2 separate regions of the Homo sapiens genome follow, and region 1 is linked to region 2. Evidence: fine-mapped expression QTL. A gene starts in region 2. The other region holds a variant in brackets. All regions are shown on one strand. Distances are from middle to middle. Region 1 overlaps ZNF317 (zinc finger protein 317). Region 2 holds the start of ZNF317 (zinc finger protein 317).

Evidence for each region. PIP is the estimated chance that this variant, and not a neighbour inherited with it, causes the effect.
Region 1: its variant is fine-mapped to the expression of ZNF317 in monocytes after interferon gamma (Fairfax 2014, PIP 0.95).

What each region holds. Positions count from the first base shown.
Region 1 is chr19:9,160,952-9,173,689 of GRCh38, reverse strand. It overlaps ZNF317 (zinc finger protein 317), which reads right to left. Exons shown (of 7, transcript NM_020933.5): 7 at 10,277-12,738. The coding sequence ends at 12,257. Among named protein-coding and RNA genes, the nearest start is that of OR7D2, 12 kb to the left of the region's middle. The variant G/A (reference allele first, on the strand shown) is at 6,593.
Region 2 is chr19:9,135,542-9,148,279 of GRCh38, reverse strand. It overlaps ZNF317 (zinc finger protein 317), which reads right to left and starts at 7,883. Exons shown (of 7, transcript NM_020933.5): 1 at 7,688-7,883. RefSeq lists enhancers at 7,861-8,070, 8,121-8,220.

The sequences.
Region 1 (12,738 bases), 25 kb before region 2:
TCAATAAAGATGTTCCCCTTACTTAGACTCTTGCAATAATATACTGGCCTTGTGGCCAACTGCAGAAAAGAATGGCCACTGTGTCTTTTCTTCCCTATATCCAAGCCCCTTTTGTGTAACTGAGTGCCCTTCCACCTTGGGCTCACCCATGATTGCACTGGCTGATGGGGCATAGGCATTCCCAATACAAGCTCTGCTGGAACACTCCAGCAATGTGTGAACAGGCCTTACCTGGACGACTGGAGGAATGAGACCTTGAACGAAGAACAATAAACCCCACCCCACCTAGACAGTGACTGCAGAAGCCAGTCAAGAGAACTCTCAGGCTAAGCACAGCCCAAATTGTCAACAAACAAACCCTAAATAAAAGGTGGTGGGGTGTTGTTGTTTGAGAGACGGGGGTTCACCATGTTGCCCAGGCTGGTCTTGAACTCCTGGACTCAAGTAATCCTCCTGCCTGGCCCCCAAACTGCTGGGATTATGAGACACTGAGCCCGGCCTGGTGGTTGCTTTAAACCACCATGTTTTGGGTGGCTATGAAACAAAAGCTCATAGAAACAGGACCCTTCATTCCATTCCGCAACTGGGAACCAGTTACCTTGCTCAACTGCAAACTTCATTGAATATCAATTTGTTTCCATCGATTTCCAACTAACATTTACATTGAAACTAGTAGACTAACATATAGATATATGTGTGTGAGCCAGGCACAGTGGCTCATGACTGTAATCCCAGCACTTTGGTAGGCTGAGGCAGGAGGATTGCTTGAGCCCAGGAGTTTGAGACTAGCCTGGGCAACATAACAAGACTGTGTCTCTACAAAAATAAAAAAAATAGAATTAGTCAGGCATGGTAGTGTGTGCCTATAGTCCAGGTACTTAAGAGGCTGAGGTTGGCAGATGGCTTAAACCCAGGAGGTTGAGGCTGCAGAAAGCTATGGTCATGCCACTGCACTCCAATCTGGGTGACAGAATGAGACCGAGTCTTTAAAAAAAGAGAGAGAATAAAGGAAATGTGTGTGTTCTCCAATCTGTCCCATATTACCTTTCAAGTCTGCCTCTTACTCCAAAGATTGTCTTTTATCTACAGAATGTAATATACTGTCATTTTTTCAGTGCCTTTGCACTCAGGATTAGCATGCTTATTTGATTCTGCTCCTGAACTCTTAATGAGCCTTCTACAAGGCAGGCCTCGGTGGCTCATGCCTGTAATCCTAGCACTTTGGGAGGCCGAGGTGGGCAGATTGCCTGAGCTCAGGAGTTTGAGACTGGCCTGAGAACACGGTAAAACCTGTCTCTACTAAAATACAAAAAATTAGCCAGGCATGGCAGCGTGTGCCTGTAGTCCCTGCTACTCGGGAGGCTGAGGCAGGAGAACCGCTTGAACCCGGGAGGCGGAAGTTGCAGTGAGCTGAGATCGCGCCACTGCACTCCAGCCTGGGCAACAGAGCGAGACTCCATCTCCAAATAATCATAATCACAATCATAATCATCCTTCTACACTGAGCTTGCATCATCTCTTCTACTTAGATTTTCTTGATGGCCCCCAGTTCAACATCTTCCTCATCTGGGGCCTCCCAAATGGATTCACCTGCCATACTAGGTGTCTTATTTACTGTTAATATCGCTCTTCTCCTAGACCTTTACTTTCTTAAGGGCAGTACTTTGTCTTATTGATCTTTCTTCCCAAAACCTAATTAAAAGTGTAAGGCACTTAGCTAATATTCATTGGGTATATACAATAGGTTCCCTAGCAGGGAAGAATTCCTGAGTGGATTGGATGTTACCCAAAGGTTACACAAGACAGAGATTTTCCCTGCTGGAGAGGGTCCAAGAACTGAAAACAAGACTCAGACAAGCAGACTGTGTTCCTGTAATTAGAAGTTCCCTCCAGAGACTGTGTGACACTTTCTTTCTGAGAACTGGCAGGGAAGTGCAATGAGAGGCAACTGTCATGGGCCACTGAGGTTATCCATGGAATTCATTATCGGGATGGAGAAATTGGGCACAAAGGGACCAGTTATGCTGGTTCCCAAGGCTCATTTAAAAAATGGCCGATTTTACTCAATGCTGAGAGAAAGTACTCTCTTCCCCTTGGGCCCGGCCTCTAGGGTACACATTCTTTTTCTCAATCCTGGCAATAGCCAGTGAGTAATTGCTATTTCTTCACTAGTGAGCCTAGGAAAACTTTTGACCAAGGCTTGCTGAACGTTCAGCATTTTCACTTGGGGATGTAAACTGCCCCGACTACACACTCAAAGTCCTGCGTGGAAGCACTGCCAGGGGAAAGGAAGGGATTTCAGGAAGCCAAGTGGAACACCACAAGCCCCTTTGTCATGTGCTCTGAGCCCAGCAGATCCACTGGTTGATGCAGGCATGAAAGGGGTCAAGAGGTGAAACAAGAGCTGAATGTCAGAGTAAGCACTTGACACTAGTCCCAGTTTCCAGCTGGTAAGTTGACTCTTTGACATGTCTCTTTCTCTGCAGAAAGTAAATGACTGGCCTCCAGTGTTGTTGGGAAGACTGGTCAATCTATGAAAAAAGTGCTCCAATCCGCCATCTTCTTGGTTGAGGTAGAGAAAAATTATCACCAATGTTAGGTCAAAATAACTGTCAAGGGCCCAGCATGGTGGCTCACGCCTGTAATCCCAGCACTTTGGGAGGCCGAGGCAGGCGGATCACCTGAGGTTGGGAGTTCGAGACCAGCCTGACCAACATGGAGAGACCCCCCGTCTCTACTAAAAATACAAAATTAGCCGGGCATGGTGGCACATGCCTGTAATCCCAGCTACTCAGGAAGGCTGAGGCAGGAGAATCACTTGAACCTGGGAGGCAGAGGTTATGGTGAGCCAAGATCGCGCCAGTGCACTCCAGCCTGGGCAACAAGGGCGAAACTCCATCTTAAAAAAAAAAAAAAAAACTGTCAAGTCCCAAGGCTGGTGTAATCCCAGCACTTTGGGAGGCCGAGGTGGGCAGATCACTTGAGGCCAGGAGTTCAAGACCAACCTGGCCAACATGGCAAAATTCTGTCTAGTAAAAATACAAAAATTTGTCAGGCATGGTGGTGGGTACCTGTAACCTCAGCTACTCCTGAGGCTAAGGCAGAAGAATTGCTTGAGCCTGGGAGGCAGAGGTAACACTGAACCGAGATCGTACCATTGCACTCCAGCCTGGGTGACAGAGCAAGACTCTGTCTCAAAATAATAATAACAATAAATAATAATAATAATCAGCTTTTATTCTGAACTCAAGAAAGTAGCATTGGGCTACAGACAAATCAAGGAACTCATGTTGCTTAAATGTAAGCGTTTTCTTGGGCAAAAGATTAAGACCTTGGAGGCCAAACCAGATAGAAATGAATGGACTGGAAGAAAATGCAGATCAAACAGTCCTTGAAAACAGAAATAACCGTCGAGTTTTGACAAGTGTTCTTCAAATCTTGCAACCTGAAAACCAAATACAGTGAGAGAAGCAGGGTCTCATGGAGCAAGCTGGAATTGCTCTTGTCATGACAGAAAGAAATGCTTTGATGATTCCTCAGTAAGCATTCCCAGCCCTGTTCTGTTTTAGGAGAAACTGAAATGTACAGGAAAGCTGCCTCTTGAGGATTTCTGTGATGATTTTGTTTCCTAAAAAGGTAAAGTGGCCAAAAATGAGTGTACGCCCCTGTCTCTACTAAAATACAAAAAAATTAGCAGGGCGTGGTGGCAGGTGCCTGTAGTCCCAGCTATCTGGGAGGCTGAGACAGGCGAACCGCTTGAACCCGGGAGGCAGAGGTTGCAGTGAGCCGAGATCGCCGCCACTGCAGTCCAGCCTGGCGACAGAGCGAGACTCCATCTCAAAAAAAAAAGAGTATACGCTGTACACTGCACAGGTTGAACGGGTCAATCCCATCTGTCTGTTCCCCTCCTCAACTTTACTCTTCCTCACAGCATTTATTCTTCTCCGCATTTACTTTTCTTCCTAGTGTTTATTTATTCGCTTGTACTCTGGCTCCAAAGTTTAACGTCAAGATTACTATGAATGGGACCAGTTTTGTGTACTGCTGCCTTGCCAAAGCCTATAAATACCTGGACAAGAAAGTCATTAGTTAATTCCCAGTATTTATGAGAATGTAGTATGACATTGCTAGCATTTTAATGTAGCTGATAAAAGTCATTTCGTAAGTGATGGAGGTAAAATGAGTTATCCATTCTGACAAGATCTCTAAGTACAACATACCCTGCCACCAAACTGATGGCAACTCTTAGACCTTCTCAAGAGACACAAATACCCTCATACTCACACCTCCAAAGGGACCAGGGATCTCTGGTCTAAAAAAACCCAAATCCAAGCTGAGACACACACTTAACAGTCCCCCAAGGGCTTTTACAAAGAAGAAACTTAGCACAATACATAATATATATATATATATATATATATATAATTTTTTTTTGTTTTGTTTTTGTTTTTTTTTGAGACACAGTCTCGCTGTGTCACCAAGGCTGGAGTGCAGTGGCAAAATCTCGGCTCACTGCAACCTCCGCCTCCCTGGTTCACGTGATTCTCCTGCCTCAGCCTCCCAGGTAGCTGGGAATACAGATATGCACCACCATGCCCAGCTAATTTTTTTGTACTTTTAGTAGAGACGGGATTTCACCATGTTGTCCAGGCTGGTCTCCAACTCCTGACCTCATGTGATCCCCCAGCCTCAGCCTCCCAAACTGCTGGGATTACAAGCATGAGCCAATGTATCTGACTGATACGTAAATATTTTGCAAGTAACCTGCCTGACTGCAAACCCTTGGCCTCTCTACTCCAAACTCCAAACTCCAAACCCAGGTTTCCCAGGACACACATATTAGGAATGCATGGATGTGTTCACTCAGGTAAGGAACGATGCCCGCAATGGCCAATGTGTGCAGAATAACAATGTAAGGCCAGGCGCAGTGGCTCACGCCTGTAATCCCAGCATTTTGGGAGGCCAAAATGGGAGAGGATCACTTGCGGTCAGGAGTTCGAGATCAGTCTGGCCAACATGGTGAAGCCTTGTCTCTACTAAAAATGCAAAAAATTACCTGGGTGTGGTGGTGTGTGCCTGTAATCCCAGCTACTTTGGAGGGTGAGGCAAGAGAATCCCTTGAACCTGGGAAGTGGAGGTTGCAGTGAGCTGAGATCATGCCATTGCACTTGGCCTGGGCGACAGAGTCAGGCCCTGACTTAGAAAAAGAAAAAAAAAAAAAAAAAAAAAAAAAAAAGAGGGAAATGGAGAAATTGGAGAAAAGAGAGAGACAGAATTTTAAAAATCTAGAGAAAGAAATATAAAGAGAGAGAGAGAGATGGAAAGGGAAGAAAGTAAAACCACTTAGCTAAGGAAGCTCAAAAATGAAAATGTGGAAATGGGAGAGGGTAGAAGGCTGTTGGAGAGGGAGTCTGAGGCCCTCAGATGAACCAAGTATGTAAGGAAGAAAATTAAGGAATAAATCTGTCCCGAATGTCAAAGTCAGAGTCCACCACTCGTAGGCTCCCACCCTGGAAACACACTAGGTCCTTCCGTTGTGCTGAATGGCAGAAAGACGGCTGAGCAGACCATGTGAGAGCACAAACACTATCTCCAGCAACACAGGAGTCCAGGGTCTTCACAGCCATGAGGTCCCCGCCGGGCCTCCAGGCTTAATCTCAATCTTGCCATTTTCCTTCCTGGTAACTAAAAACAATGGCCAAAGCTCCATCATGGAGCTTGGATTCCTGTGCAATTGGGTTCTGCTTGCAACAGAAGGTGGTTTGAAAACAACCTTTTAATGGCATCAGACCCACTTGTCATCACTGCATGGCTGCTGATGGGTACCTGAGACACCTTCTTTGTAGGATTTCCTTGTTCCTTGGCAGGGTTTCTAATGAAATAACAGGAGGTGGAGGGGAGGGCATGTGTGGGGGGTGTCAGTTACTACATGTTTGTTTTTTTTTTTGACCGAGTCTCACTCTTTCGCTCAGGCTGGAGTGCAGTGGTGTGATCTCGGCTCACTGCAACCTCTGCCTCCCGGGTTCGAGCAATTGTCCTGCCTCAGCTTCCCAGTAGCCGGGACTACAGGCACGCGCCACCACGCCCGGCTAACTTTTGTATTTTTAGTAGAAATGAGGTTTCACTATGTTGGTCAGGCTGATCTCGAACTCTTGGCCTCGTGATCCTCCCTCCTTGGCCTCCCAAAGTGCTGGGATTACAGACATGAGCCACTGCACCCGTCCCAGTTACTGCATCTTGAAGAAATCAGGCTTGGGGATGGGAGCAGGAAAACACATCACCCTTTTCAGTTATTACACAAAGCTGTGCACAGCAAGGCTTATTACCACTACACCTACCTCTCCCTTCATTCCTCCCTGGGTGGCCAGGGCAGGCCAGGAGGCATTGTGTTATTGGCTTAGGGGACCACCACATTCAGAGCAAATTCAAGCTACAACAGGGAGAAGCACCTGTTTTCCTAAGGACCTCAGACATCTGGATTTTAAGGAGTCACTAAATGGATTCCACAGATGAAGAGGACAGAAGAGTTAGTGAACTTTAAGATATATCAGTAGAAGTCATACAAACTGGAAAACAAACACATTAGAAAAAT[G/A]AAACAGGAACTTCAGAGTCCTGTGGCGCAGCTGGAGTCCCAAAAGGAGAAAATGAGGAAGAAAACAACTTCGGAAAATTCCTGAGAATTGAAAGCAGGAACTCACACAGACACTTGCATCCAATGTCCATATTGTAGGGGCAACAAGATTTCACCTTCATCATCTTAGGATCCTTGCTGGGCCTGATAATTACACCGACATACGATTAGGTTAACAAGATTAAAGCATACACATGTATTTGTTTAATGAAAGTTTTATGTGGCATGGGGTTCCTCATAAGGAAACAAGCCAGAAAAGCAGTTAAGAGCCAAACACTTATAAACTGAATTGGACAGACAAGTAAACTGCGCTAATGGGATAAAACCAAGGGTGTGGGCTAGGGTGGTTAATCAGGTAGAGAAGTGGCTCAGAAGCCGTAGTGTAATGAGGTTGGTTTGGATAGATCTCCTTTGCCTCAACTTTGCATCCTTCATGCTAAGAATGCTGTCTTCAGGCTGGGCGCAGTGGCTCACACCTGTAATCCCAACACTTTGGGAGGCTGAGGCGGGCATATCACCTGAGGTCAGGAGTTCAAGACCAGCCTGACCAACATGGTAAAACTCCGTTTCTACTAAAAATACAAAAATTAGCCGGGCATGGTGGCAGGCTACTCGGCGAGTACCCAGCTACTTTGGAGGCTGAGGCAGGATAATTGCTTGAATCCAGGAGGCAGAGGTTGCAGTGAGCCCAGATCGCGCCACTGCACTCCAGCCTGGGCAACAGAGCAAGACTGCATCTCAAGAAAAAAGAAAAAAAAATCATCAATATCAGTATGATTCACAATAGCCAAGAGGTAGAAACAGCCCAAATGTTCATCAATAGATGAATGAATAAAACGTGACACATACATGCAACAGAATTTATTAAGCCATAAAAGGGAATGAAATTCTGATACATGCTACAACATGGATAAGCCTTGAAAACATTACTTTTAATGAAATAAGGCAGACGCACACAAAACAACGTATTTTATTATTCTACTTCTGACAAAATTCATGGACACTACCTACAAGTTACCAGGGGCTGAAGATAGAAGTGTTGAGGAGTGATTGCTTAATGGGTACATAATTTTTTGGAATGAAGAGAAAGATCTGAAAATGGATAGTGGTGGTAGCCAATATTGTCAATGTACTTAATGCCACCGAACAGTACACCTAAAAAATGATTAAAATGGGGCTGTGCGCGGTGGCTCACACATGTAATCCTAGCACTTTGGGAGGCCGAGGCAGGTGGATCATGAGGTCAAGAGATCAAGACCATCCTGGCCAACATGGTGAAACTCCATTTCTACTAAAAATACAAATATTAGCTGGGCATGGTGGTGCGCACCTATAGTCCCAGCTACTCAGGAGGCTGAGGCAGGAGAATTGCTTGAACCCAGGATGTGGAGGTTGCAGTGAGCCAAGATTGCACCACTGGACTCCAGCTTGGGCAACAGAACGAGACTCTGCCTCAAAAAACAAAAACAAACAAACAAAAAAACCCAGTGAATTTCATGTTATGTTTATTTTACCACAATTAAAAAATTATGAAGAAATAATGGCCAAATACTTCCTTGTGAAAGACAGTGACTCACGTATCTAAGAATCTGAAGGATCCCCAAGCAGAGTAAATGCACAGGAAACTGCACCAAGACACAGAGTCAAACTGTTGAAAACCCAAGATAATTATCTGAAGAGGAGCCAGTGACAAGCAACACATTACTTACATTACTTACAGGGGAATAATGTTAAGAATAACGCTAACTTTTAGTCAGCAACAATGGAGGCCAGAAGACAAAGAAATGACCCCTTTAAAGCATATCCAGACCAGGCGCGGTGGCTCACACCTGTAATCCCAGCACCTTGGGAGGCTGAGGCAGGCAGATCACCTGAGGTCAGGAGTTCAAGACCAGCCTGGCTAACGTGATGGAACCTCAACTTTACTAAAAATACAAAAATTTGCCAGGCATGGTGGTGCAAACCTATAATCCCAGCTACTCAGGTGGCTAAGGCACAAGATCGTTTGAACCTGGGAGGTGGAGGTTGTAGTGAGCTGAGATCATGCCACTGCACTCCAGCCTGGGCGACACTCTGTCTCAAAAAATAAATTAAAATAAAATAAAATAACATATTCAGCCAAAGTATCTCCAAAAACTAAGGTGAGGAGACTTCCAGGTAACTAAAAACAATGGCCAGTGAGTGGTAAGCAACCTCCCCAAATCCCCTTTCAAATGCTGTGAAGTAACTCCACACCTATGAATCTTCTACACAAAACTATACCTTCAACACTGCCTTTAAGACATAGAGAATGCCAAAATTGCAACATAACTATGAGTAAAATGAGAAAAAGCATTAAATCTTAGCACCACGGTCCCACACATGCCCACCCCAAGGCTCTGTTAGGTAAACTGCAAGAAAGAGGGATAGCTGGTGGGGGGGCCTGAGACAGAGCTGGAGCAAGACCCTCAGAATCATCTACCCTTAATTTGAAAATGCAAAAAAACAAAACAGAATCAAAACCCTGGCCAATCATAGGAGAACTGCAGGAAACAGACTTAAAACTATGTGTCATTTATAGGCCGGAGCAACTGTGTCTCACACTGCTAATAAAGACATACCTGAGACTGCCTAATTCATAAAGAGGTTTAATGGACTCATAGTTCCACATGGCTGGGGAGGCCTCACAATCATGGTGGAAGGTGAATGAGGAGTGCTGTCTGAATAGCCCACCCCTTAATTTGCATGTAATTAAAACTGGGTATAAATACTGCTAGCCAACAGCCTATATGCTGCTACCCTGGGTATACTGCCTATGAGTCAGCCCTGCTCCACAAGGGGCAGCCACTCTGCTGTGCCCTGCTGCTTCAATAAACCCAATTTCTTTTACTGCTGGCTGCCTCTTGAATTCTTTCCTGAGCAAAGCCAAGAACCCTCCTGGGCTAACCCCCAGTTTGGGGGCTCATCTGCCCTACATCATCAGCAGAAAAATAGAGACTCAAAGAATCAGAAGGAAAGATCAGAAATCAAAGCCACCATAAAGAAACGGAAGAATGCCTTTGATAGGCTAATCAGTCATCTGAACATGGCCGGGCGCGGTGGCTCACGCCTGTAATCCCAGCACTTTGGGAGGCCAAGGTGGGCGGATCATGAGGTCAGGCCATCAAGACCATCCTGTCTCACACGGTGAAACCCCATCTCTACTAAAAATACAAAAAAATATTAGCCGGGTGTGGTGGCGGGCACCTGTAGTCCCAGCTACTCAGGAGGCTGAGGCAGGAGAATGGCATGAACTTGGGAGGCAGAGCTTGCAGTGAGCCGAGATCGCGCCATTGCACTCCAGCCTGGGTGACAGAGCAAGACTCTGTCTCAAAAAACAAACAAACAAAAAAAAAAAAACAAAAAAAAACCACACAACTGACCAATGACCAGGTGTATGGGCTCCAGGCAGCATCCAGCTGGGTGTAGAAACCCCCTCCCACCAATAAACAAATGAAATAGAAAAACAAGCTGGGTGTGGTGGCACATGCCTGTATTCTCAGCTACTTGGGAGACTGAGGCAGGAAGATTGTTTGAGCCCAGGAGTTCGAATCTAGCCTAGGCAACATAGGGAGACCCCCATCTTAAAATAAATAAATTTAAAAGAAAAACAATGAAATATCCATAGCAGCTTAAACCAATAATCAGTTTTATTTTTTCTCATGTGATAGAAGTCTGGAAGTCCAGGGCTGCTGCAGACACTCAAAGAGGCCACAGGGGAGGCCAGGGTCGCTGTGAGCTTTCTGCAGTCACTTCCTTAGACTGTGGTTTTCATATGCACGGTCGTTAAGGTGGATCTTCCAATACTAGGTACTGGATCTCTTTGCAAGGTGAAAAGTAAAGCAAAGAACAAAACATACAGGGAGGAATTCATGTTTAAGAACGATCCCCATTCAAGAGCTTTCTCAGAAGCCCATGTGGTGACATCTGCTGATCTGTCAGTGGCCAGGGCTGTGAGACATGGATGGTACCAGCTGCAAGAAAACCTGTAAGAGATTTTTTAAAATTTAGATTAGCACACCTTACTAATCTGACAGAACCTGGATTCTCTTGATATTGGAAGAAGATGAGAGTGGATACCGGGGAAGTCACTAGAAGTATCTGTCACTCTTGGCTGGACAGCAGGCTGCAAACATATTACCACTTGATGGAGGCATCATGCTCTGGTCGCAATCCGTGTGCATCAGGTACCAGTAACAAAGTGGTACTGAGAAATATCCTCATGTCACATAGATCTCAATATGCCATTGGTCAAGGAGGTTGTCCAGAAGGAAATTAGGACGTTATCAAGGATGAAGCTATAGTAAAAATACTATAAACAAACCTTTCTTGATGAGGCTTAAGGGTTATTTAGAGGAGTATAACCTTAAAAATAAAGATGAAAAATTTATGAACGGGGCTCTGTTTTCATGATGAGAGAGTACGTGCAGTCCCGTATTCACCGGAAAATCTCGTTGGGGCTTCTCTCGGGGGGTCTGTTTCCGTGATGAAAGAGTAAGTGCAATCCCGTATTCACCGGAAAATCTCGCTGGGGCTTCTCTCCGTGAGAATATTCACATGCTCAAGTGAGGGGACCATGGCTGGAATCATTTCCACATAGGAATTATCAGCACTAATTGTATTTTAAAAGTTTTGTAAAAGAAATTTCTCCTAGCGTAAGTGCTCACAAGATTCATAAAAATGGAGGAATTGCTGCAGGCAGTAATTGAGGAATGACTGCATGATTATTTTCAACCTCAGCAACAGTGACGTTTGGGGGCACTAACTCTTCGTTGTGGGGGGCTCCTGTGTGCTGGAGCCGACTTAGCAGCATCTCTGATGTCTTCTTATTACAAGTCAGGAGTATCTTCCCCCCATTCTAACTACCAAAAATGTCTCTAGACATTGCCAAATGACGCCTAGACAGCCAAATCGTCGCCCGACTGAGAACCCGTGCTGTAGACCAAGGGTCGGCCAAGTTTTTCTGGAAAGGGGCAGATGACAGGAAGTATTTCAGACTTCATTGGCCACAAATTTTCTCCATCAAACATTCTTCTTCCTTAAAGATGGAACCACTATTGTTAGCTGGCAAGCCATACAAAGACAAGCAGCTGGCCGTGGTTTGCGGCCCATTCATGACCTTCCACGTTCCTTACTTCACTGATTTCTCTCTTTAGTGTGATTTCCGTCATGAGGAATCAAGTGAGACTAGGAAGGGTTTCCCCAGCCACTGTGTTTACAGAGATGCTCCCTAGTGTGCTCATTATTACTCATGGGCCCAGAAGGCTAGAAGTGGTCTGAAGTCATTTTGACATTAAATGCCACGGCTTGGATTTTGACATTAAATGCCAAGCTGCCATTAAGTCCTCCTGTGTTTGTTAAGAGCTGAATGTACCCTGAAGGCTTCTCCATGCTACAGACGTACATTTTCACCCCCGGCGTGAGTTCTCACAAACCTCCTATGGGATGAGAACGCCTCGTCTTCCCAGTTTTTACAGGAACTGGACTTCTCCCAAGTTCCGTGGATTCTTTTGCACCCAGTAAGGTGCGAGCTCACAGAGGCTTCCTCTTACACCCACGAGGTCTGTTTCCGGTCTGAATCATCCTGTGTCTCTAAAGCAGGCGCGCTCACTGGAGCCTTTTCCACACGGATGACACAAAGAGCTTCTCTCCCCGGTGAGTTTTCACGTGGCTCCTGAGGGATGAGTGGTCGCTGAAGGCTTTCCCGCAGACAAGGCATTCGTAGGGCTTCTCCCCGGTGTGGATCCGCCTGTGCACATTCAGGTTGGAGCCTATGCTGAAGGCCTTCCCACAGTGATCGCATTCGTACGGTTTCTCCCCCGTGTGGCTTCGCATGTGCGTCTTCAGCGTTGACTGGTTCCTGAAGGCCTTGCCACACTGCCTACACTCAACTCGTTTCTTTACAAGGTGAACGCTCATGTGCCTCCGCCGGGATAAATAGTCACCGAAGACTTTCCCGCAGGCGGCGCATTCGTAGCGTCTCTCTTGCGTGTGTATCTTCCTGTGTGCGGTGAGGTTTGAACTCGCGCTGAAAGCTTTCCCGCAGAGATCGCACCCGTATGGTTTCTCTCCAGTGTGAGAGTTCATGT
Region 2 (12,738 bases):
GTGATTCTATCACTTTCAGGGGTTGTCAGTGCTGGGTGATGGTGTATTAGTCCATTCTCGCACTGCTATAAAGAAATACCTGAGACTGGGTAATTTATAAGAAAAGAGGTTTAATTGGCTCACAGTTCTGTAGGCTCTACAGGAAGCACAGTGCTATCTGCTTCTGGGGAGGCCTCAGGAAGCTTCCAATCATAGCAGAAGGCAAAAGGGAAGCAGGCAAAGCATATGGTGAAGCAGGAGCAAGACAGCAGGGTTGGGAGGAGGTGCCACACACGTGTAAATGACCGGATCTCAGGAGAACTCACCCGCCATCACGAGGACAGTGCCAAGGGGGATGGTGCTAAGCCATTCATGAGAAATCTGCCCCCCTGATCCAATCGCCCCCCACCAGGCCCCACCTCCAATATTGGGAATTACATTTCCATATGAGATTTGGAGGGGGGGAGGGGGCGGATACACATCCAAACTGTATCAGAGAGTCTCAAAGAACTGGTGGCCATGAATACAAATAAAGCAGGAAGATTTCAGCATCTAAGCGACCCCAGCAGGATGTGGAGCAGGGTGTCTAGAACAGCTGTAGGATCTATGAACTCAGAGACGTTCTGCCCCGTTTCTACATGATACATGAAACAAAACCAGGATCAGCCGGGCGTGGTGGCTCACGCCTGTAATCCCAGCACTTTGGGAGGCTGAGGCAGGCGGATCATGAGGTCAGGAGATTGAGACCATCCTGTGAATGGTGAAACCCCATCTCTACTAAAAATACAAAAAATTAGCCGGGCGCGGTGGCGGGCGCCTGTAGTCCCAGCTACTCAGGAGGCTGAGGCAGGAGAATGGTGTGAAACCCAGGAGGCAGAGCTTGCAGTGAGCTGAGACTGTGCCACTGCACTCCAGCCTGGGCGACAGAGCGAGACTCCATCTCAAAAAAAAAAAAAAAAAAAAAAAAAAACCAGTGTCATTGGAATGCTGTCACCATGGATGAGTTAGAACGGACAGGTTAATTTTTCAGAGCTGTTGGGGTTGCTTAATTTCTCTTTTAATTTTCTTTACAGCATGGTGAAAGCAGTTCTATTTTTCTATTTCTACACATCTTACTCTATTCTCATTGGGATCTGTTTTTCTCCTCACCAGGGCCAGGACTGGGATGAGGCAACCAAGGCTGCTAGACAAGAGTGTGGTATTTAAGGAAGCACTTCTGGTGTCAGACAAGCACAAGGTTGGCTCAGAGCGAGTGGCTCCCTGGCTCTGCACTCACAAACCTCACCCTTGCTCCAGCCCTGCTCCTCAGTTTTAGAAGATCTGCCTCCTCCATCAAGTTTGTGGTCCAAAACAAATGTTGCCCAAAACTGTTCCATTATGAGCTTTCTCAGGACCATAATTCTCCCAATATTTGATTTTATCCCCATATTCAACTTAATCACAGTATCCCAGGATATTCAGAATTTGCAGATGTAAATACTGTAGAGAGAATAATTATTTTGTTACTTTTACTGACTGGTATTTCTGCCCTTGCTAGAACCATTTCTACCACTGTTATTCACGTAAATATAGGCCCAGCATGGTGGCTCATGCCTGTAATCTCAGCACTTTGGGAGGCTGAGGCGGGCAGATCATTTGAAGTCAGGAGTTCAAGACTGGCCTGGCCAACATGGTGAAACCCCGTTTCTACTAAAAATACAAAAAAATTAGCCAGGCATGGTGGCACATGCCTGTAGTCCCAGTTACTTGGGAGGCTGAGGTGGGAAGATTGCTTGAACCTGAGAGGCGGAGGTTGCAGTAAGCCAAGATCATGCCACTGCACTTCCAGCCTGGGTGACAGAAATGAGACACTGCCTCAAAAAAAAAAAAAAGAAAAAAAGTATATAAATAATATATACAATATATATATAGCGAGAGACAGAGAAGGCAACAAAGGTTGTGAGAACATCATATGCCATTTTCTTGGTCCAGAAATGCATTACATTAGTAAATCAATATACCCTCCTTTCAACCAGCTAGATGAGATGTCCCAGGGGGTGGGGAGCAGGGTAGGAATTCTGTTTCCAACAAGCAACCTAGGTGCCCCAATTAAACCTTCCATGCATAACTATTTCAAATGCAACACAAAGTACAGACAGATGATAGGTTTCAAATTCATGTGCTGGCAAGAAATTAACATTCAGAAAATTAAAAATTTATGATTTCTAAAGGGCAATTACAATTGCTAAAAAAAAAGCAAAATGGAAACCCACAACAAAAGCCCTAAGTAAATAGCTTTTAGATTATACACAGCCAATAATAATAATAATAATAATAATTTGTTTCTTAAATATAGTCTGCTGCATAAGCGTCCCCTGGAACACTTTAAGTAACTCTGACACCCAGATCATATCTCAGTTCAATTCTCTTTGGGGTGGGCTGATGAATCAGTATTTTAATAAACTCTACATGAAATTTTTATGAAGGCTGAAGTTTCAAAGCCAGTTGTAGCAATAAATGCAAGGGAAGCACAGAAAAAGAGTTGAGGAACATAAATACAGCTAAGAACCACGTGGGGGCAGAAGATAAGGAATTGAACCATTTCTAACTGGAGTTACTGATGAGAGACAGAGAAGGAGCCTAGGCAATCACTGCAAAATATAGTGGCTGTAGATTTTTCATTTTGAAGGAAAATATAAACAGATTGAAGAGAGATAAAATCTTAAGCACAATGAACCAGATAATACCAACGGTAAAAAGAATATCTGAACAGCAGCCAGAGGAGAAAAAGACAGGTTACCTTTTAAGCAATAGTTCTCAAACTTTAAGTTACATGGGAGTCACCTGGAGGTCTTGTTAAAACACACCGTAAATATCTCTCCATTAAGAAACAAAGTAAGCCTGGGCATGGTGGCCCACACCTGTAATCCCAGCATGCTGGGAGGCCAAGGCAGGTGGATCACTTGCACGCAGGAGTTCGAGACCAGCCTGGGCAACATACCAAGACCCTGTCTCAAAACAAAACAAAACGAAAAACTCACATTTCTAGGCTCCTAAAACCGCTGCCTGGCCAACATGGTGAAACCTTGTCTTTACTAAAAATACAAAAATTAGCTGGGTGTCATGGCCCATGCCTGTAATCCCAGCGACTCAGTAGGCTGAGGCAGGAGAATTGCTGGAACCCAGGAGGCAGAAGTTGCAGTGAGACGAGATTACGCCATTGCACTCCAGCCTGGGCAACAAGAGTGAGACTCTGTCTCAGAAAACAAACAAACAAACATTAGACTGACAGCTGACTTCTCATCATTAACAGTGGAAGCCAGAAGATAATGGAACATCTTCATAGTTCTGAAATATAAAATTCTATTACCACCAAAAATGTCCACTGAGAAAGAGAGAAAGAGGTGTTTTCTGAGCACCAAAAAACAAAGTTCCTGTGGGCTTGCAACCCACAGAAAAGAGACATCATCAAAGACATACCTCAGGGAGAAAGAAGTAATTAAAGAACCAAAGCAAACAGTGGAAGAATTACACCAAAAAGTGTAAGAACCAAGTAAAGTGCTCAAAGTGATAAACATGTGAGTATAATGAAACAAGAAATGATGGTATGCAATAGCAATAATAATTTCTTCTGAGGTTTAAAAAAAGAACTCAATATGTGCAACTATGATATATCAATAAAGAAAGAATGAAAATGCATAAGAAAACCATGTAAATCAGGAGAGTAACATATGCAAATCTAGATTTAGTGAATGAGCATGGGTAAGAATTATTTAGAACAACCACTGAAATAATAGAGTAAATAAATTCAAAATGTACAGAAAATAAAAAAGGAGAATGACAAAAATACACAAAAGAAGCTAGAGAAAAAACAGAAGACAAATGTAACATTCAAATATATTAATACAGAAGATGCTAACAGAATAAATGCTTTAACTAAAATACTAATATTCACAGAATAGATTAATCCAATTATATGCTACGTACAAGAGATATCTAAAATATAAGAATACAATAAGAGCCGGGCGCGGTGGCTCATGCCTGTAATCCCAATGCTTTGGGAGGCCAAGGCAGGTGGATCACCTGAGGTTGGGAGTTCGAGACCAGCCTGACCAATATGATGAAACCCCATCTCTACTGAAAATAAAAAAATTAGCTGGGTGTGGTGCCATGCGCCTGTACTTCCAGCTACTTGGGAGGCTGAGACAGGAGAATCACTTGATTCCAGGAGGTGGAGGTTGCAGTGAGCCAAGATCGCGCCATTGCACTCCAGCCTGGGCAAAAAGAGTGAAACTCCGTCTCAAAAAAAAGAAAGAAAGAAAGAAAGAAAGAAAGAAAAAAGAGTACAATAAGAATGGAAATAAAAGGATATATAAGGCAAGTAAAAAAAAAAAAAAAGAAAGCTGGTTTGAATGTTAGTATCAGACAGAATAGATTAAGGCAAAAAGGCTCATAGAGAAAAATGAAGTATTACATAATAAAAAGTTATAAATCCAAAAAGAGGTGTGTGTGTGTGCCTGTGTGTATAAAACACAGCCTCAAAAAAAAGGAAAACACAAAAATTAAAAAAAAAAAAGGGGGGACAGAATTCTAAGGAGAAATGGATGAAGCCACCACCAGAGCTCTCACAAATCCAGTTTAAGCAGGCAGTTCAATAACTATGTGCAGATTGAACATGATGAGACAGCACTCATGGGGCCATGTTTGTCTCAGAAAATGCTTGACCACAGAGCAATGCAGTTGGCAAACAATGACCAAAAGATAACCAGAAAAAAAGTCACAGAAATGAAAATTAAAAGAAAAAAATTCTAAATCTGCATGCCAAAGAAGCCATGATATTTGATATTTATAATTAAAATACAATAAAGTATGATACTGCAATTCTTTGGGATGTGACAGGCATTCAACATAAGAAACTGGAAAGAAACATCCCAAAAAGGAAGAAAATGATAACAATCAGAAAGTTATAAAATAGAAAACATATATATCATAAAGTGGTTCAATCAAGCCAGAAGTTCTTTAAGAAGAAAACTGACAACATTCTGATGGAATTTATTTTTGTAAAAAGCAACATATAATTATTATAAATAAAAAAGTGGATAACATTACAAATGCAGCAAGCATTAAAAATTTGAGTATGTTATGAACAACCCTGACTATACGATTTAAACCTCAGATGGAATAAATAAATTCCTAAAGAAATTTTACTCATCATAACAACACAGAAAACCTGAATGCCCCACAAACCTTAAAAGAACAGAAACAATAGCTTTAAAACTTTCCACAAAGAAAACTCCAGACCCAAATGGTTTTTCCAGGTACCACTCCCGTTCTAAGGAACAAAATATTCTATTCTTATGCAAAACATTCCAGAGTTTAGAAAACAGAACACTTCTCATCCCATTTTATGAGGCTGGCATAAATCTGAAACAGAAAAGGAACATTTCACTCAAGCATAGATCCAAAAACACCAAACAAAGTATTAGCAAACCGAAGCCAAAAGTAACAAATAGTAACATGTCCTTTCCAAATTATTTACCAATACAAATTCAATGTAACAAGAGAAAATCAATTGGTTTAATTTGCCACACTACAGGATAGAAAAAAAATTATATTATTCACTCATTAATTTGTTACACAGCAGTACTGAGTGCCATAATTTAAGGTACTAGAAATGTATCAATAAACAGATACAAAACTATCAATATAGATTTTGTATCAAACAGATACAAAATGTATCAATAAACAGATACATAATGGCAAAAAAAAAAAAAAAATCACTTGTTAAAAGCCTGCAGCAATTCACAAGAAAAACTCAAGTAGGAAAAGAGGGGAGCTTCCTTGACCTAATAAAAACTATTCGACAGAAAAGCCTTCGGCAGACACAAATGACAATTCCCTTTAAGATCAGAAAACAAACAGGCTTGCCTAGAGTGTGCCATCCAAACTCCAGTCAATGACAAGGGAAGTCCCCACCCAGTCCAGCACAAAAAACAAACAAACAAACAAACAAACAAAAAAGACAATTTATCGTCTGTATAAAATAAATATTTGTATTTTCCTTTTGAATTGTACACATTTTCCTTGTCTACGAAGAACATCCAACAAACTACACAAAAGTTAGACTTTTCTGAGCACCAAAAAACAAAGTTCCCAAGAATAAATATAACAAAAACAACCTAAATCCTTTTTGCAGGTACTTATAAAACTTTACTGAGCCGGACATCGTGGCTCTCTCCTGCAATCCCAGCACTTTGGGAGGCCAAGGCCGGTGGATCACCTGAGGTCAGGAGATCGAGACCAGCCTGGCCAACATGTTGAAACCCCATCTCCACTAAAAATACAAAATTTAGCTGGGTGTGGTGGTGGGTGCCTGTATTCCCAGCTACTCGGGAGGCTGAGGCAGGAGAACCGCTTGAACCAGGGAGACAGAGGTTGCAGTGAGCCGAGATTGTCATTGCACTCCAGTCTGGGCTACAAGGGTGAGACTCCATCTCAAAAAGGAAAAAACAACAACAACAACAAAAAACACTTTATTGAAAGGCATTAAAGAAGATGTAAATAAATGATGTAAATCAATTAACTGCAACTCAATGGCATAAAAACGACAATATTCCCAAAGTTCAAATATAGATTCACCACAACTTGAAAACAAAAGTCCAGTATGTGGAATTTGGTGAACTGACTAGAATTTAAGCCATGACATTCCTGAAAAAGAATGGCTAGGTGTAAGTACTTCATCTACAAGATATTTAGAAATCTCTAAATTACAAAGGTGTGCTTGAATCAATACAGAAAAAGATTGTTTCCAAAAATACTGAAGCGCCTGAGTTCATTCACAAATAATTACCAAAATTTAGGAAATATATTTTCTGGAAAAGATGTATACGCAGTCAAATCCACGGAGACAGTATTGGTGGGAGAGGAGGATGCAGTTTAGAAGAGGCACACAGCTTTCTGAGATTTAATAATCTCTTTCTTGGCCTGGTTTGTAAATTCGCTTTACTGTTGTCCTTTTAAGTGTGTGTAAGTCTGCGTGTGTGTGTAATCATACTTTTTTTGCATGTATGTCCTATTTTCCAGTGTTAAAATATGTGCATAGGAAAGGACACACCACAAAATAAGACGGTAAAATTCAATGGAAAATATTAATAATCACGATAAGTATAACTGGACTAACTCAAGTTAATTAACAAAATGTTGAACTGAATAGTAAATATACATATAGGCTATTTACAAGAGTCCACTAAAATTAAAATAAATAAAAAAGTGCAACCAGAAGGTCTTAAATTAAAAATATAAAAGGTACTCAAGGTAAGTGCTAATAAGAACACCAATGTGCTGACATTCACGAGATAAAATTGACTACAGCGCAGAAAGAAGGTGATTTCTCCTCGCGATGTCCAAATCCTGACGCCCCCCAATCTCCTGAACTGCCCCCAAACTCTTGAATTCACTTCAGCCGGGCTTTTCCGCCCCCACCAGAGACTTAGGGCTTTTCAGGATCAGGTGACCAATGCTTCTCTCATCACTAGCTGCAATGGTCCAATTTTATCCTTCGCGTCCCCAGCTTTTCATATCGCTGATCGCGAGATCTAAACGCACCCCTCGTCTGGATGCCTAGCTCTTTAGCCCCCGACCCTCGTACCCTCTTAGTCCTCACCGCCAGATAGGCCTCCCGTGACCCCTGGAACTGAGGGGGAGAAGGGTTAAGGAAAGCAGGGCTTACACGACTGGGAATAGGATCGGGGGAGCGGAGGTGACGGAAGCCGCCGCCGATGCGAAGAGAAGTTCATACGGGAGGTCCAGTCTGGCGTGGGGACACGAGGGGTCCCCAACAGGCCGAAAGAATTCGCCGCTGACCCCTCCTTGGCCCATGTGTCTCGGGGCAATCGACTCCAGAGAGTAATGGCTTCCGCTTCACTGCCGCCTTCCAATTCTCGCGGGACTTCATTGGCGGCGTCTAATACGGAAGCGGGGCGGAGAGGATGCTGGGAATTGTAGTTTTGAAGTTTGGATTGGCATGGCGGCCGTGCCCCGGTGGAATCTGACGGTCCAGCATATTTCTCCAATTTCTACTCAAGACTCAAATTTTCAACCACAACCCACAGCATTTTGTAGCCATCGTAGTGGTAAAGGTTGAATCAGGCAAGAATTGTCATCTACATGACACAACTGGGGGACATTTGCATGACGAGCAGAATATTTGAATTGCCTTAAATGCCTCTCTATAAACTGCTCGTATGTTGGAATGGAGAAAAAGTAATAGAAATTGTACAGCGAAGAAATTGGACAACATCTGGACCAGGTGATCAAATCAATATCACCAGTGAGGGTCAGATGGAGACCACGTGCCTCTGAATGACACCTTGGGAAGGGCGTAAAATCACCATCACCTGTGTGGTGTTCATCCTGCATATCTGCTATTTTGTATTTTTTGACCCACATCTTCCCATTTTCTTCCCCAACTGCCTCATTCTTTATTTCTGTGTATTTGAGCTGTCTCTCTTGATTAAAAAAAGTTCCTCATGTAAGTGACGTCATGCAATATTTTTCTTTTTGTGTCTGGCTTATTTCACTTAGCGTAATGTCCTCCAGGTCCACCCATCTTGTGATAAATGTCAGGACCTCCTTCTATTTCAAGGTTGAATAATATTCCGTTATATATATTATATGTTTTATACAATGGAATATATATTATATCATATTTATTATAATTATGTATTATGTGTATTATTACCGTATATTATATAATATATGCTAAAATAATATATGTATGTATGTTATATATATTATGGAATATATATTATATATAATATATATTATTTTAGCAGGAGGAGTCTGCATATACAAAATTCCAGAATCAGGCTGGGTACAGTGGCTCACACCTGTAATCTCAACACTTTAGGAAACCAAGGCTTCCCATGTAACCAGTAGGGGCAGAATTATATAGGCAGGAGAGACAGATGGTTAGTATTATCCAGGGCAGGTATTATAAAAGACAGAGAGAAGGAAATTTGAGGTTTTGGAAAATATATTATTGAGGGGATGGACCATGGTGCGTATATATATATATACACACACATATAAAATGTATGTATGGAATATATATGGATATAAGATATTCATATATAATATATAATCTATATTACATAACGTAATATATATTTCATAATACATAATATATACACCATAATATATAGCATATATACATATAATAATACATATAATATATAATATGTATTTCATATAGTATATTATATACATATATTACATATAATATATTACATGATATATAACATAATGGGAATATCTATTATGTAATAGGTATATATTTATATACAACATATTATATTAATATTTAATATAATATGAAATATATATCAATATTATATGATATTAATGTTGACATCATATATAAATACAAAAGAGATAGAATATTATTCAGACTACATAGCTGCTATTTTGTATTTCGTATTCATGTGAGCATCAATGGACATTCAGGTTGTTTCCGTAACTTGGATATTGTAAATAATGCTACAATGAAAATGAAAGTGCAGACATCGTTATGAGGTGATTATTTCATCTCTTTTAGGCATATATTCAAAAGAGGAATTGCTGGGTCATATAGTAGTTCTGTTGTAGATTTCTTTAAGAGCCTGAATACTGTTTTCCACAAAGGTTGTACCAGTCTGCATTCCCACCAACAATGTACTAGGGTTCACTTTGCTTGATGCCCTCGCCAACATTCATCTCTCATCTTTTTTTTCCTTTTTTTTTTTCTTTTTGCAATGGAGTTTCGTTCTTGTTTCCCAGGCTGGGGGGCAATGGTGAGATCTCAGCTACCGCAACCTCCGCCTCCCGGGATCAAGCGATTCTCCTGCCTCGGCCTCCCGAGTAGCTGGGCTTACAGGCATGCACCACCACGCCCAACTAATTTTGTCTTTTTAGTAGAGACGGGCTTTCTCCATGTTGGTCAGGCTGGTCTCGAACTCCCGACCTCAGGTGATCCGCCCGCCACGGCTTCCCAAAGTGCTGGGATTACCGGCTTGAACCACCGCGCCCGGCCTCTCCTATCTTTTTGATGATAGTTCTCCTTAAGGATGTGAGGTGATATCTCACAGTGGTTTTAATTTGCATTTCCCTGATGATTAGTGATGTAGAGCACCTTCTCATATACCTGCTGGCCTTTTTTATGCCTTCTTTGGAAAAACGTCTGTTCAGACCCTTTGCCCATTTTAAAATCAGGTTATTTGTTTTTCTGCTATTGATTTATAAGAGTTCTTTATAAATTTTGGATATTAACCCCTTATCAGATATGTGGTTTGCAAATATTTTTTCCCAGTCCGTGGATCGCCGATTCATTCTGTTGATTGTTTCCTTTGCTATGTAGAAGCTTTTTAATTTGATGTAGTCCCATTTGTCTACTAATTTTTGCTTTTGTAGTCTGATCTTTTGGTGTAATATCAAAAAAATATATATATATATATTTGGTCTTTTATCCATTTTGAGTTGATTTTTGTGTATGGCGTAAGATAAGGGTCAAATTTCCTTCTTTTGCATGTGGAAATCTAGTTTTCCTGGCAGCATTTACGGAAGAGGCTATCCTTTTCCCATTTTGTCCTCTTGGTGCCCTTATTGAAAATTAGTTCATCATATATGTTTGGATTTATTCCCAGGCTCTCTGTTCTGTTCCTTTAGTTTCTATTTTTATGCCAGTATCATGCCTTTTTTTTTTTTTTTTTTCTTGAGACAAGTCTTGCTCTGTCACCCAGGCTGCAGTGCACGGCTCACTGCAGCCTCGATCTCCCGGGCTCAAGTGATCCTCCTGCCTCAGCCCCCCAAGTATCTGGGACTACAGGTGCATGCCACAGCGCCTGTCTAATTTTTGTATTTTTCATAGAGACAGGGTTTCCCTATGTTTGCCCAGGCTGGTCTTGAACTCCTGGGCTCAAACAATCCACCTGCCTCATCCTCCCAAAATGCTGGGATTGCAAGCGTGAGCCACCACGCTGGGTCCCTTTTTTTTTGAGACTTAGTTTCACTTTTGTCGCCCAGGCTGGAGTGCAATGGTGCGATCTCGGCTCACTGCAACCTCCGCCTCCCGGCTTCAAACAATTCTCCTGCCTCAGCCTCCCGAGTAGCTGGGATTACAGGTATGAAGCCTGTAATTAGCCATCATGGCTGGCTAATTTTGTATTTTTAGTAGAGACAGGATTTCACCATGTTGGTCAGGCTGGTCTCGAACTCCTGACCTCAAGTGATCCACCCGCCTTGGCCTCCCAAAGTGTTGGGATTACAGGCGTGAGCCACGGCGCCAGGCACGTTTTTTTTTCTTTTTTTATTATTATACTTTAAGTTTTAGGGTACATGTGCACATTGTGCAGGTTAGTTACATACGTATACATGTGCCATGCTGGTGTGCTGCACCCACTAACTTGTCATCTAGCATTAGATATATCTCCCAATGCTATCCCTCCCCCCTCCCCCCACCCTACAACAGTCCCCAGAGTGTGATGTCCTTCCTGTGTCCATGTGATCTCATTGTTCAATTCCCACCTATGAGTGAGGCACGTTTTGATTCTTAACAAGGACAATTGTGCCACCTGTGGAGACGCCTTTGGTTTTACCACTACCCGGGATACTACTGACATCTAGTGGTTAGAGTATAGAATGCCCTACTCCCTCTAACAGAAATACCAGGTCCTGAATGTCAGTCGTGCCAATGATGAGAAACCCTTGCATAGAAAAGTAGGAGATGGCCGAGCGCGGTGGCTCACGCCTGTAATCCCAGCACTTTGGCCGGGGCGGGTGGACCATGAGGTCAGGAGTTCGAGATCAGCCTGGCCAACATGGTGAAACCCCGTCTCTACTAAAAATACAAAAATTAGCCGGGCGTGGTGGTGCGTGCCTGTAGTCCCAGCTACTCAGGAGGCTGAGGCCGGAGAATCTCTTGGACCCAAGAGGTAGAGGTTGCAGTGAGCGGAGATCGTGCCACTGCACTCCAGCCTGGGTGACAGAGACTCTGTATCAAAGAAAAAAAAAAAAAAAAGCAGGAGATACTGGCTGTAGATAAGAAGGCAGACATCTCATTGCTTGCAGAGTGAAAGAAGAAAGAACTGGTGATGTTGTTACTGGACTACTTTCGCACTAGTGTCAAGAAGGTGAGAAATCTCTCGAATCTAGGATAAGAGAAAAAATAAAGAAGGTGAGAAATCTTTCTCATGGTCGTTACTATTTCTCTCTGCAGTAAGTTGTAAAATCATTTGTTATTAAACAGGGAAGTTGTGGCCGGGCGCAGTGGCTCATGCCTGTAATCCCAGCACTTTGGGAGGCCAAGGCGGGCGGATCACGAGATCAGGAAATCAAGACCATCCTGGCCAACATGGTGAAACCTCGTCTGTACTAAAAAAATACAAAAATTAGCTGAGCGTGGTGGCGCGTGCCTGTAATCCCAGCTACTCGGGAGGCTGAGGCAGGAGAATAGCTTGAACCAGGGAGTTGGAGGTTGCAGTGAGCCGAGATGGTGCCACTGAACGCTAGCCTGGGAACAGAGCAAGACTCTGTCTCAAAAAAAAAAAAAAAAAAAAAAAAAAAAGAGGGAAGTTGAGATGGTGTGAATTCAAAATCCTGCAGAAATCATGAAAAGATCTTTGCCCACTGGAAATTTCCTGAAGTGTCGAAGGCCCCTTTAGAGTAGGTGATCTCAAATTTTTTAGCGCTTCCCATATCACCGCGTGGCGGCAGAATTATGTAGGCAGGAGAGACAGATGGTTAGCG